3 separate regions of the Homo sapiens genome follow, and all the other regions are linked to region 3. The links come from fine-mapping of genetic effects on gene expression. A gene starts in region 3. Each other region holds a variant in brackets. All regions are shown on one strand. Distances are between the middles of the regions.

What was found.
Region 1: its variant is fine-mapped to the expression of ZC3H7B in prefrontal cortex (GTEx, PIP above 0.99).
Region 2: its variant is fine-mapped to the expression of ZC3H7B in whole blood (TOPMed, PIP 0.98).

Annotation. Positions count from the first base shown.
Region 1 is chr22:41,356,066-41,360,168 of GRCh38, reverse strand. ZC3H7B (zinc finger CCCH-type containing 7B) reads right to left here. Exons shown (of 23, transcript NM_017590.6): 21 at 3,693-3,826; 22 at 3,361-3,524; 23 at 22-2,992. The coding sequence ends at 2,740. Among named protein-coding and RNA genes, the nearest start is that of TEF, 24 kb to the left of the region's middle. RefSeq lists an enhancer at 1-173. The variant C/T (reference allele first, on the strand shown) is at 2,570.
Region 2 is chr22:41,335,666-41,339,768 of GRCh38, reverse strand. ZC3H7B (zinc finger CCCH-type containing 7B) reads right to left here. Exons shown (of 23, transcript NM_017590.6): 8 at 1,414-1,456; 9 at 578-768. Among named protein-coding and RNA genes, the nearest start is that of ZC3H7B, 36 kb to the right of the region's middle. The variant T/G (reference allele first, on the strand shown) is at 2,356.
Region 3 is chr22:41,299,271-41,303,373 of GRCh38, reverse strand. ZC3H7B (zinc finger CCCH-type containing 7B) reads right to left here and starts at 1,849. Exons shown (of 23, transcript NM_017590.6): 1 at 1,602-1,849. It also overlaps a transcript of RANGAP1 not described here. RefSeq lists silencers at 1,473-1,542, 1,823-2,162 and an enhancer at 1,240-1,741.

The DNA.
Region 1 (4,103 bases), 57 kb before region 3:
GTGACATCTCGGGGACAGAGGTCAAAGTGCACAAGTTTATTTTCTAGAACAAAGGCTAAGGGAAGCAAGTTTCTTTCATTTTATTTTAAGAAGGACAAAAATTGTTATTAAAACATCTACATTATTATCAAGATACTAGACCTTATGAATATTTAATATTAAAGTGTGGTATTCTTAAATTTTTAATACACAGACATTTTAAAGGACCATTAAATTGATTACTGCCCAGCTGAGAAATGCAGCATCCCTCCCCACCCACCCCGCCCCCATGCTTGCCATGCCATCTTGTCCCTGCCTGCCGGGGGGAACACAGGTCCCAGATTCAGTCCTCTGAGCCTCCCAGCCTGGGGCCCTAGAAGGCTCACAACTGAAATAGTTACCCTCATCATTAAAAGGGTCTTCCTGTCCCTCCTCCCCATCACACTCTGCCTCCCACTCTCTCTTCCTTACCCTGTGGGGGCTCCAGCTCTGGCCAGGCCAGGAAGCCCCAGATCCCAAGGGTCCCTGGACAGATCACAGGCTGAAGATGAAAACTCTGGACTTGAATCCTGTTCTTTTCAGCGGGGAGACAAATACAAATCACCTTCTTTCCCTGAGCACTCCCACTCTCTCCGCACTCGATGGGGGTGGTCTGGGAAGCTAGCAGAGTTGGGCCTGGGGAGGGTGGCTCCTGTCCCTGGCTGCCCGAATCACCTCTGAGCCATGGCTCCAGTCCCTGTCACCTTGCAAATAGTCCAGTGGCCCCTGAAACCCTCCTAATCACACAAGGATGGCTGCATTTTCTGGCCAAATTCTTTATCTTTAGCCCTCATAAAAGTGATTCCTTGGATACCACACACATATATAATATTATATAGAGCGATATATTTAATACCTGTGTATATATGCATCACGGGGGCGACATATATACACACTAGAAACAAGGCTGGTGACAACGGACTGCAACACCACGGATCAGGGAAAACGAGTATCATCGACATCACGGCCACACATGGCCACAGCCCCCACCTTGGGTGTGGTCTCCCCTCCCCTACAGCCACACCACCAGCACCCAAACTCTGCAGTGCTGGCCTGCTGCGGCCAGGGGGTGGGGCAGGGAAGAGGAAAGGGCGCATGCCACGATTATCAGGAAAGGTTGGGCAGTGGCGGCGGGAGGAACAGCGTCCCCTCCAGCCCTGGGCAGCCCATCACTGTGTCAGCGCGCGCTGGCAATCCTTGCTTGAGAAGAATGGGGTGGTCCCTTCTCTCCTTCTCACCCCCCTACAGCCTAATCCCTGGTTCCTTCCGGGGCTGCCCCACTCCTGTGCCAATGATGTGGGGCATTCTGGAATGTCTGGGGAACCAGGGCACGGTGGATCTGCCCTGGTTGATGGAAGGTAGGGTGGAGAGGAGGGGGGTGCACACAGACATGTCAGACGAGAGGGACGAGCGAGGCCTTGGTGAGTGGGGGCAGGGGCTGGGGGTCCACTGAAGTCCCAGACAGCTGGGAGGGCCAGGGATTAGGGAGGGGCTAGGACAGACGGTTATAACTGTATGTCTGGGTCTAGAGGAGAGGACATACTGGGTCCCCAAGAAAGAGGGGCCGTGTCCCATCCTGGAGTGGCCCATGGTGCCCGGGGTCAAGCCTCCCTTTTCTCCGCATTCCCCCAGACCCTCACCCTTCCCACCTCCCACACCTCACACAGATCCTGAGCTCATGGTGTCCTGCCCTCTGCCACCTTTCCCAGAGCGCATGTCAGGAGGTGACCTCTGCTGCTGCACCCAAAGGGACCATCCTTGGGAGGGGGCGGTCCCTTCATGGGGTGCTCACATGGCCAGCCCTCCTCTGGGCCTCCCCTCCCCAGCCCCCAGGCAGCGCTGCCTGGGACCCCAGCTGCACACTGATTCAGAGACCATCGCATCCCTGCTGAGGGGACCGTGGGCTCAGCCAATAATTGGCCCTGAGTCTTTTCAGCCCTGTTTTCATCCCAGCTCTGCCTTGTGCTGGGACCGTGGGTGGACCACTCCTCCCTTCTAGGCCTCAGTTTTCCTCTCTGCAAAATGGGGTTTGGGCTGGATCATCTCTGAAGGCTCTGAGGACCTACAGTCTATTTTCACTGGCCCACGAGGGAGCAGGGTTCAGGTGGTGGCATCAGAGAAAGGGCTGGGACTCCTTAAGCTCCAAAGATCATCTAGCCCACCTCCTCCCAGCCTTCCGGAGGGAAAGCTGAGGCCCCAGAGGGTAAGTGGCCAGTACAGTGTTCCCAGCTCCAACCTGGGGCTACATTTTAAAGCTAATGGGGCCTCTGCCCTCTGTTGTGTCCTGATTTGCCCCCAGGGGGAGGGGGTGGGAGGAGGACGGGCCAGGGAGAGAAGGACCCTCCTGCTGGAGATTCAAGTGGGGACCCCAGGCTCCCCAGCCCTGAGCTTTGGGCCCCCATTAGGAGCAGACAGAAGTTAAAGCTGGAGGCTGAAGCTGGAGGGGTCAGCCAGGCCCCTCCCTCCTCAACCAGGAGAGCCGTGGGGGTGGGGGAAGGGCAGCCCAGGTTTCAGCGGGGCCTCCGGGGGCTGCAGCACGTGCGCCTGGGTA[C/T]GCACACCGGGGCGGTGGTGGGGAGAAGATGGACAGGGCCTCAGGGGGCTGGGGGCTGCCTGATGAGGGCGGCCCCCCACCCCCCTGGCCTGCCCTGACCCTTCTATCAGGCCTTCTGGCCCCACCCCACCCCCTGACCCCAGGACTTCACCCACGGCCAACACCTGGCCCTACTCCCCAGTGGTGGCGGTGGCAGCAGCAGCAGGGGCTTCTGGGGTGGCACCGGCAAGGTCCCCGTCCTCTTGCAGCAGGAAGTTGTATTTGCCAAAGTCGTCGTCCCGTGGGCACAGCAGCATGTCCTTGCGAGCCTTGGCCAACTTCTGCTTCAGCACCTCGCGCCGGTCCAGCCACTCGTTGAGCTCCTCCTGTCCATGGGCGCAGCGGCACTTGTCCCCATCTGGGCAGGCTTTGCCCTTCTGGAGCCTGTGGGTGGCAGGAGGCTCACTGCCCGAGCTCTGTGCCCTTCCCACCCCAGGCTGTCCATCTGGGGCCGGCCGCTTGACCTCCCCGAAGACAAGCCTCTCCCTGGGCAGCTGGGTCCCAGCTCAGGGAAAACCTGGGTGTCCTGACCCTCTCTGGGATCTGCCCCACAGCTGCAAATTAAAGGTCTAGATAGGTCTGAGCCCAGCCCTCCCATCCACCCTTCCCCACCACCCCCATGGCTGCAGTCACAGCCAAGCCTCACCACTCCCTGCACACCACCTCCAGGCCAAGAGGAGCCAGAGCTGGCCACGGACTCCATCTCCTCGGGCCACCCCATGTCCCGCCAGGCCCTGCCCTCCCAGGAGCACCTGTCGCAGAGCCGGAACTCGCCCATGGGGAAGCGGAAGGCCCAGCCGCTGGCGTCACTGTCGGACGTGAAGACCTTCTCCTTGTGCTTCTCGGACTGGATGTGCTGCTGCCACTGCTTCTTGCTGTTGCTGTTCTTGCCGCAGAGCCAGCAGTGGTAGCCCATCTGGGAGCACAGCCATCATGGGTGCCTGCTCCCCCACACCTCTGCCCGGACCACCCACCTCGGAGAGGCTGAGCGCTGGCCGGCTGGGCCCTCCAGGCTGCCCCTCCCAGGTGAGGCTCAGACCACAGCCCCGACCGCAGCCCCGAGCATGCAGGGCGGAGGCGTTACCATGATGTCCGCGTAGTCCGTGGGCATCTGGATCTGCTTCTCCCCTTCCCGAGAACTGATGGGGGTCCCTTCTCCAGGCTTTCCTGGGTTGTGTTTTTTCAGCCACATGTCATAGGTCTGCTGCATGTCCAGGACTGGGCAGGGGACAGGGACAGGGCACCTGCTGAGGGGCTTCTCCATCCATTCTGCCCCATGGTCCCCACTTGATTTGGGAGCCGTGGGCGTCCCAAGTCCTGCTGATAGGCCGCTCAGCCTCAGGGCCTGGCCTCAGAGAGGGCCCGGCATGGGGCAGGTGGAGAAGGGCCCAGGTAGCAAAGGGGTGCAGTGGACGCTCTTGGGCCCGCTGGTGAATTGAGACATTCAGCACTGAAGAGACACCGGGGGAGGGCCCGCCCGCCCCGTCTGCCCACT
Region 2 (4,103 bases), 36 kb before region 3:
CAGGCCTGGGCAGCATCAGGACTTGGGGAAGCAAGGAGACCTGCACCCTGTCGCCTGGCTTCATCCTGTCCCATGTGGGAGCAGGGCTCACTATGGTCCCTTCTGGCCAGACATTGTGCAGCTTCATTTCTTTTTTTTTTTTTGAGACGGAGTCTTGCTCCACTGCCCAGGCTGGAGTGCAGTGGTGTGATCTCGGCTCACTGCAACCTCCGCCTCCCGGGTTCAAGCGATTCTCCGGCCTCAGCCTCCTGAGGAGCTGAGACCACAGGCATGTGCCACCATGCCCGGCTAATTTTTGTATTTTTAGTAGAGAGGGGGTTTCACCACGTTGGCCAGGCTGGTCTCGAATTCCTGACCTCAAGTAATCCGCTGCCTTGGCCTCCCAAAGTATTGGGATTACAGGCGTGAGCCACCGTGCCCAGTGTGCAGCTTCATTTCTGTACCAAACAAGTCCCTACTGAGGCCTCCTCCTGAGACACATGACATGAGCATTGGGGCCTTCCCTCCACCCCTGGGACAATGGGGACACAGCGGGGAGAGGGGATCAGGGGAGCACAAGGAGGGTGGTGTGGCTCACCAGCGAGTCCAGGAGGGTGTCCAGCTCTGGGCCAAAGACATCCCCGTCTGAGAAGTCATCCAGGCTGTCGGTGCTGGGGAGGGTCCTGCTGCTGTCCAGGGGGGCCAGCAGGTCCAGAACGTGAGGGAACAGGGGCATCGTGGGCGTGGAGGGGAGAAGGGCTGGGGAGCCTCGAGGGTCCACGTAGCAGTCTGCGGATGGGGTGGGCAAGAGCCGAAGGGGAGCACTGCTTGGTGAGGGTGGAGGAGGCGTCCCGGGCCCCGTGATGCTCATCCAACACTTTCCCTTCTTCTTTCAGCTCTTGCCAGGAGCCCTGCCTTCCCCATCGGCTGATCCCACTGGCAGATGCTCAGGGGGTGGTCAAGGAAGGCCACAGCCCCAGAGCAGGGAGGGGCCCTCAGTCCTATGATGTCAATCCTTGGCCCAGGCTCAATGCCTAAATGTCCACCACTGCTGCCTCCTTCTTCTGGGGTAAGCAATGCCCTCTCCAGGGGACACTCTTAAAAGGCAACCTTTTCTGGAAGCCAATGAGGAAGAGGAGGGGAAAGGGCTTTGGAAGAGGTGGGGGTGTGCAGGCAGCCAGGAGTGAAGGCCATGGGACTGTTGCACCTAGCTAAGAGGCAGCACCCCTCTCTGCCAGACTAGAGATGCCCTCCCCTCCTTGAGTGGGTCTGTAGCTCTCAACCCACTGTTTTCTCCCATGCCTCAGGGAGTACCAGGGTGGGGAACCCCTCGGAGGCCCTCCCATCTACAGGGCTGGGATGGGGAGGGGGCTCGACTCCCCTGACCTCTCGGGGCCCCAATTTCCACTTGTTCCCTCGTATCGGGGACATTACCTGTTTCGATGTCATCTATGGACCCCAATCCATTAGAAGTTCCCTGTGGGGAGAGGGCCACAGTGGCGCTGTGGCTGGGAAGGCCCCGATCCCAGCACCCAGCACCAGCCCCTCCCCACGTGACTATGCTGTTGACCCAGCACCGAGGAGCACTTAGAGTGCCAGGGGAGATTAAAGCCCTCACATGCGGCCAGGCGTGGTGGCTTATGCCTATAATCCCAGCACTTGGGGAGGCTGAGGTGGGTGGATCACCTGAGGTCAGAAATTCAAGACCAGCATGGCCAACATGGTGAAACCTCATCTCTACTAAAAATACAAAAATTAGTCGGGCATGGTGGCAGGAGCCTGTAACCCCAGCTACTTGGGAGGCTGAGGCAGGAGAATGGTTTGAACCCAGGAGGTGGATGTTGCAGTGAGCCGAGATCATGCCACTATACTCCAGCCTGGGCAACAGAGCGAGACTCTACCTCAAAAAAAAAAAAAAAAAGCCCTCACACGTGCTGGGTCCTCACCCCTGTGGTGCCCAGCAAGGGGCTGGATGGGCCAGCAGGTGGGGGCATGGGCTCAGTGGATCCCCACAGCTGTCCCTCTAGGGAGGGGTGGTTGAGGGCAGGGAGAGAACCTCTGAGTCTTGGTTCCACCCACCACAGGGCAGGGTCCTCACCCCGGTGAAGGTGGCAAGGGTCTTAGCAAGCCTCCCCCCACAGCACCACAGATGGCCTGCAGTTCAAAGACAAAAGTGCCCCCTCCCTGAGTCCCCAGGCTCTCCTCTCCCACGGTAGCCCCAGGCCCCCCAGGAAGCAGAGAAGGGCATAAACCCAGGTGGGATCCCACTGCCTTCCTGCTGGAGGAAAGCTGGGCCTGAGCAGGCTGTACAACCTGGGCAAAGTTCCCCATCCACTCTGGGCCTGCTTCACTCACCGCTGGGGAAGGCTATCAGGA[T/G]GAAATGACTTGCTATGTGTGAAGTGCTTAGAACGGGGCCTGGCACACAGGAAGTGCTTTGTGTTTTGGGTTTGTTTTTTTTTTTTGAGACAGAGTCTCACTCTGTTCCCTAAGCTGGAGTGCAGTGGCATGATCTTGGCTCACTGCAACCTCTACCTCCCGGGTTCAAGCAATTCTCCTGCCTCAGCCTCCCGAGTAGCTGGAATTACAGGCACCCGTCACCACGCCTGACTAACTTTTTTGTATTTTTATTTTGTATTTTTATTTATTCTTTTTTGAGATGGAGATTTGCTCTTGTTGCCCAGGCTGGAGTGCAATGGTGCGATCTTGGCTTACCGAAACCTCTGCCTCCCAGGTTCAAGCGATTCTCCTGCCTCAGCCTCCCAAGTAGCTGGGATTACAGGCATGCGCCACCATGCCTGGCTAATTTTTGTATTTTTAGTAGAGATGGGGTTTCTCCATGTTGGTCAGGCTGGTCTTGAATTCCGGACCTTAGGTGATCCACCTCCCTCAACCGCCCAAAGTGCTGGGATTACAGGCCTGAGCCACCACACCCAACTTTTTTTTTTTGAGATGGAGTCTCGTTTGGTCACCCAGGCTGCAGTGCAATGGTGTGATCTCAGCTCACTACAACCTCCGACTCCCACATTCAAGTGATTCTCTAATCTCGGCCTCCTGAGTAGCTGGGATTACAGAAGCATGCCACCATGCCCAGCTAATTTTTGAATATATATATATATTTTTTTTCTTTGAGATGGAGTCTCACTCTGTAGCCCAGGCTGGAGTGCAGTGGCACGATCTCAGCTCACTGTAAGCTCCGCCTCCTGGGTTCATGCCATTCTCCTGCCTCAGCCTCCAGACTAGCTGGGACTACAGGCACCCGCCACCACGCCTGGCTAATTTTTTGTATTTTTAGTAGAGATGGGGTTTCACCGTGTTAGCCAGGATGGTCTCGATATCCTGACCTCGTGATCCACCCGCCTCGGCCTCCCAGAGTGCTGGGATTATAGGTGTGAGCCACCGCGCCCAGCTAATTTTTGAATTTTTTAGTAGAGATGGGGTTTCACCATGTTAGCCAGGTTGATCTCAAACTCCTGACTTCAAATGATCCACCCGCCTTGGCCTCCCAATGTGCTGGGATTACTGGCGTGAGCCACCGTGCCCGGCCTGTGTTGATTAGATGCACAGTTTCTGGAAGTTGGGCTGGGAGAGCTGCTGTTTCGTTCAACAGTTCCCACACTCCAACCTCCAGGCTGTGGTGCATCCTTCCCTGTCCTGAACACCCTCCCCTTTTTCTCTGAGTCCTTCACAGTCCAGCTCAAGTCCTGCTTCCCTGGTGAGGCCCTGGGTGGCCCCACCCTTTCTGTGTCCCCACGGAGAGCCGGATGGAGGACCAGACTCCACCACTAGCCTTCCTTTCCCAGGACCAGCAGCCACAGGACCAGCAGCTAGACTCATCCAGCATCCTGCCTCACGCCAGCCCAGGCCAGCATCTCACACCCACTGTGGGGTTTAGCCCTCGGTCCAGGCGCCCTGCGAGGTATCATCCCACGGCATGGAAATGTCAGCCCAGAAAGCTGCTATGCACAGATCAGAGCAGGGCTGTCTGACCCAAGAGCCTGTCCTGACTCTGTCCCCTGGAACTGTACACTCCCCCATCCATACCTGCACCAACACCCTGCACCTCCTTCCCACACCTGAGCCTGCCATAGAGCACATGGCAAATGTGTGCACTTCAGTCTCCGGAG
Region 3 (4,103 bases):
ATTCCTGTCTAACCTATACAAAAGCCAGCAGCTAAGAACACACAGCATCTACAGAACAGAAACTTTATCCCAGCTCAGGGACAACAAAGTCTCTCTCCCATCCTCAGATCTCATCCCTCCTGGACAGGTTCTTTCTTCCCACCTTAAGTCTCCCCACTTCTCAAACATGCTCCATCCAACTGTTGACCAGGTGTCATTTCCACCTTGCAGTCCAACTTCTGTGGGAGGTGGACACGGGGAAAGAAGACCACCACGGAGGGGATGGCTGTATGTGTGTAGAGGAAGTATTGGTAGTAGAACTAAAGATTCTGCCAGCATTTTGTGTCCAACACAGTTGCTACATGTACTATAATTATCTCATTTGTGTGAAAATTCAAGGATCTGCATTCTGCTATTTTCATCAGGCTGAACTGCAGATGCTGAGGAATATGGCAAGAAGTTGGGGTTCAAAGTCTGATGCCAAAGCTAGCAACCCGAGAAATAAAACCGCTGATCACCAGCTCCCCACTCAGGCCCAGCCCCCTTTTAGAGCCCCCAGACTCCCCACGCAGGGCCCTAGCCCCCTAGTCTTCCCCGTCAATGCCCTGTTGGCAATACAGCCATCAGGTTCTATCAGAGTGAGCTGTTTTTATATGATTATTTTCCCCCCTGGGAAGACGGCTTTGTCTGTGAAAGTCCCCCCAACCAGGCGCCTTATAAACGCCTAAAACAGACAGAGTTGAGGAGAAAGGAGGGGAAAGGAGGAGGGAGCAAACCCGGAGGGGGGCCCTGAGGTTCGCAGCGGGCAGGATGGGGGTATGAGGCCGGAGTCGGCGGCTCCCAGGCCCCCAGCCCCGTCAGGGCGCCCCCGTCCCCAGGCGCCAGAGCCGGGGTCCGCAGCCCCCTAGCACTCCCTGGACGGCCGCGGGCCTCCCACAGGCCTCGAAGTCCAGAGACTGATCCTGCGACCGGAAACGCCCCCCTGCCCAGCAGGCCCAGACCGCGCCCCCCTTTCCTGCCGCCCCCTTCCCGCGGGCCCGGCTGCAGGCCCCGGATCCCCGGGCTCGCGTGGCCGCCGCAGCCGAAAGGGGCGGCCCGTCGGGCGGCCCCGCTCCCCGGCCCTCGCCGCGGCCCCTCCAACTCCGGGTGCTGCGGGGCCAAGGACAACACAAAAGGAAGGGGGGCCCTGCCAGCGACGCCCCTGCCAGCCCCCGAGACCCCCTGCGCGGGGTCGGCAAAGCATCTGGACACCCCAGAAGCTCCGGACGCCGAAGAGAGAGGCCCCACGAAAATTTCAAGACACCTCCTGGGGGCTGCAGGGGCGGCCAAGTCTCCCCAGCGCCAGGTGCCCCCGGCCACACGGTAACTTTTAAACTTTGGGGCAGGGCACGGGGACCGGGATCCCCAAAAAGGAGCAAATGGGGTTTTAGAGACGATTTATTTTTTGCAAAATCCCACTTTCCAGGTGGCCCGGCGCGCGGCCCCGGCCTGGAAAGGGCTCTCTTCGCCTCTTCCCCAGCCCTGCCCGGCCCGGGCGTCCCCGAACCCTCGCGCGCGGGCGGCTCCGGACGCAGTGTCCCCGGCCTCTGCCCCGCGGGGCTCGGGCCGCGCCAAGCACTCACCTCCGCCGGGCTGCGCTCCCCGCGGGCCTGCGCCGAGCCCGATAAATGGTATGCTATGACTAGAGGTATGATTACGTTATTATTATTAGTAATAATAAGAGTAAATGCTATTTAATTACGGGCGGCCGCATCCTGCTCCCGGCGCCGCCGCCCCGGCAGCTCCGTCCATGTGGCTCTGGAGCGCTTTACTTTCATTTCCAGCCCCTCGGCTGGCCGCTCGCGGCAGCACCCGCTGGAGGCACTGTCTCCCTGCAGCTCTTCCTCCTCGGGTCCTAGAGAGCTCGGCTCCCGTCGCCTCGCCGCGCCCGGGGTGGGCGGCGCGGGCTGCGCACCTGGGGAGAAGGGCGGGGGGCGTGGGGGCGAGTCGGGGAAGCCCCATTCCCCGTCGAAAGCTCATGCCTGGAATTCACCTTTATTTTCTTTAAAAGTGTCCTGCCTTTTAGGGGGGTTTCTTTTGGCAGTTCTGCATTTCTGGGCTGATGCTGCTCAAACCCAGCGCCTCCGCCCTTCCCCATCTGTGTCAAAAGTCCCCCCGCCCCCCTTCTCCGGCTTCCAGGTGCTTTCATGGAAGGCTGCCCAAAACCCTGGTTGCGTTGTGCCCTTCTCATAGATGGGAACCGGAGACACATAGAAGAATCAGGACCTCACTTGGCTGGAGTTTTATGTATAGGATGTTAAAAAAAATATTGAATGACACTTGTTAAAGACTACAAGGCCGACTTTATTGGCATCATGATGGGTGTAGGGACCACTGCAGTGGGTTTTGCGGTCAGGGAGAGTATTTGGGCTCAATTCAGAAATCAGCATGGGCAACTGGGAATTTATGAGGAAGGAGAAAGGATCCACTGATTGAGCGCCAGTGCATAGGAAACTGCATCAGAGATGAGAGGATTCTCGCTTAAACCCATCTAACAAGATTCTTGCTGAAGGCAGGGCAAGGTGATCAGACATCACCTGGGGAATGGTGGAAAATGAGGAACCTGATTAGATATTGACAATCAGGGCTGGGTGCAGTGGCTCACGCCTGTAATCTCAGCACTTTGGGAGGCCAAGACGGGTGGATCACCTGAGGTCAGGAGTTCAAGACCAGACTAGCCAACGTGGTGAAACCCCATCTCTACAAAAATACAAAAATTAGCCAGGCGTGGTGGTGGGTGCCTGTAATCCCAGCTACTCAGGAGGCTGAGGCAGGAGAATCACTTGAACCCCAGAGGTGGAGGTTGCAGTGAGCCAAGATCATGCCATTGCACTCCAGCCTGGGCAACAAGAGCAAAACTGTCTCCAGAAATATATGTGTGTGTGTGTGTGTGTGTGTGTGTGTGTGTGTGTGTGTGTGTGTGTGTGAGTTCCCAATACCCCCTAGGCAATTTACAATGAAACACCCTTGACAACTTATCACATTTACCACCATGGTTATTATCACTCTCATTTCATCGATGAGGATGCTGAGGCCAGTTGGATTGCTGCATTTTGCCTCAAGTGAACTAGATGGCAAATGGTCTGGTGATTCCACCACCCCAGGTTGCTGGTGAAATAATGAACACATATTCTTGAAGAGGACTGTCCATCATTCAAGGGGGATTCAGCAGGACACCAGCCTCTTATCTCTTCAAGTTGGTACCAACTTGTTCAATTGTTTGGGCTGCCTAAGATGGTAAAGGGGTCTTTATTACAAGACCCCAACCAGAGGTGAGGATGCTTTGGAGAAAAGGGCCAGGAGGAGGCCGGGCGCGGTAGCTCACGCCTATAATCCCAGCACTTTGGGAGGTTGAGGCGGGCGGATCATGAGGTCAGGAGATCGAGACCATCCTGGCTAACACGGTGAAACCCCATCTCTACTAAAAATACAAAAAATAAGCTGGGCGTGGTGTCGGGAGCCTGTAGTCCCAGCTACACAGGAGGCTGAGACAGGAGAATGGCGTGAATCCGGGAGGCGTAGCTTGCAGTGAGCCGGGATCATGCCACTGCACTCCAGCCTGGGCGACAGAGTGAGACTCTGTCTCAAAAAAAGAAAGAAAAAGAAAAGGGCCAGGAGGCTGGCATCGGTAGGCTTTCTGGGAAGCCCCATGTTGTCAGTCCCATGTTGTCACAGTGTGCTCTATGTCCCCATGTTAAAGCTGAAATAGCAGTAACAGCCACCGCTTCTTTACTATGAGCCAAACACTTTGCATATGTTGATTCTTTTACCCTCTCAAAAACCCTGTAGCTCGGCACGGTGGCTCACATCTGAAATCCTAGCACTTTGGGACGCCAAGGTAGGTGGATCACCTAAGGTTAGGAGTTCGAGACCAGCACGGCTAACGTAGTGAAACCCTGTCTCTACAAAAAAATACAAAAATTAGGCCGGGCGCGGTGGCTCAGGCCTGTAATCCTAGCACTTTGGGAGGCCGAGGCGGGTGGATCACAAGGTCAGGAGATCGAGACCATCCCAGCTAACACGGTGAAACCCCATCTCTACTAAAAATACAAAAAATTAGCCAGGCATGGTGGCGGGCGCCTGTA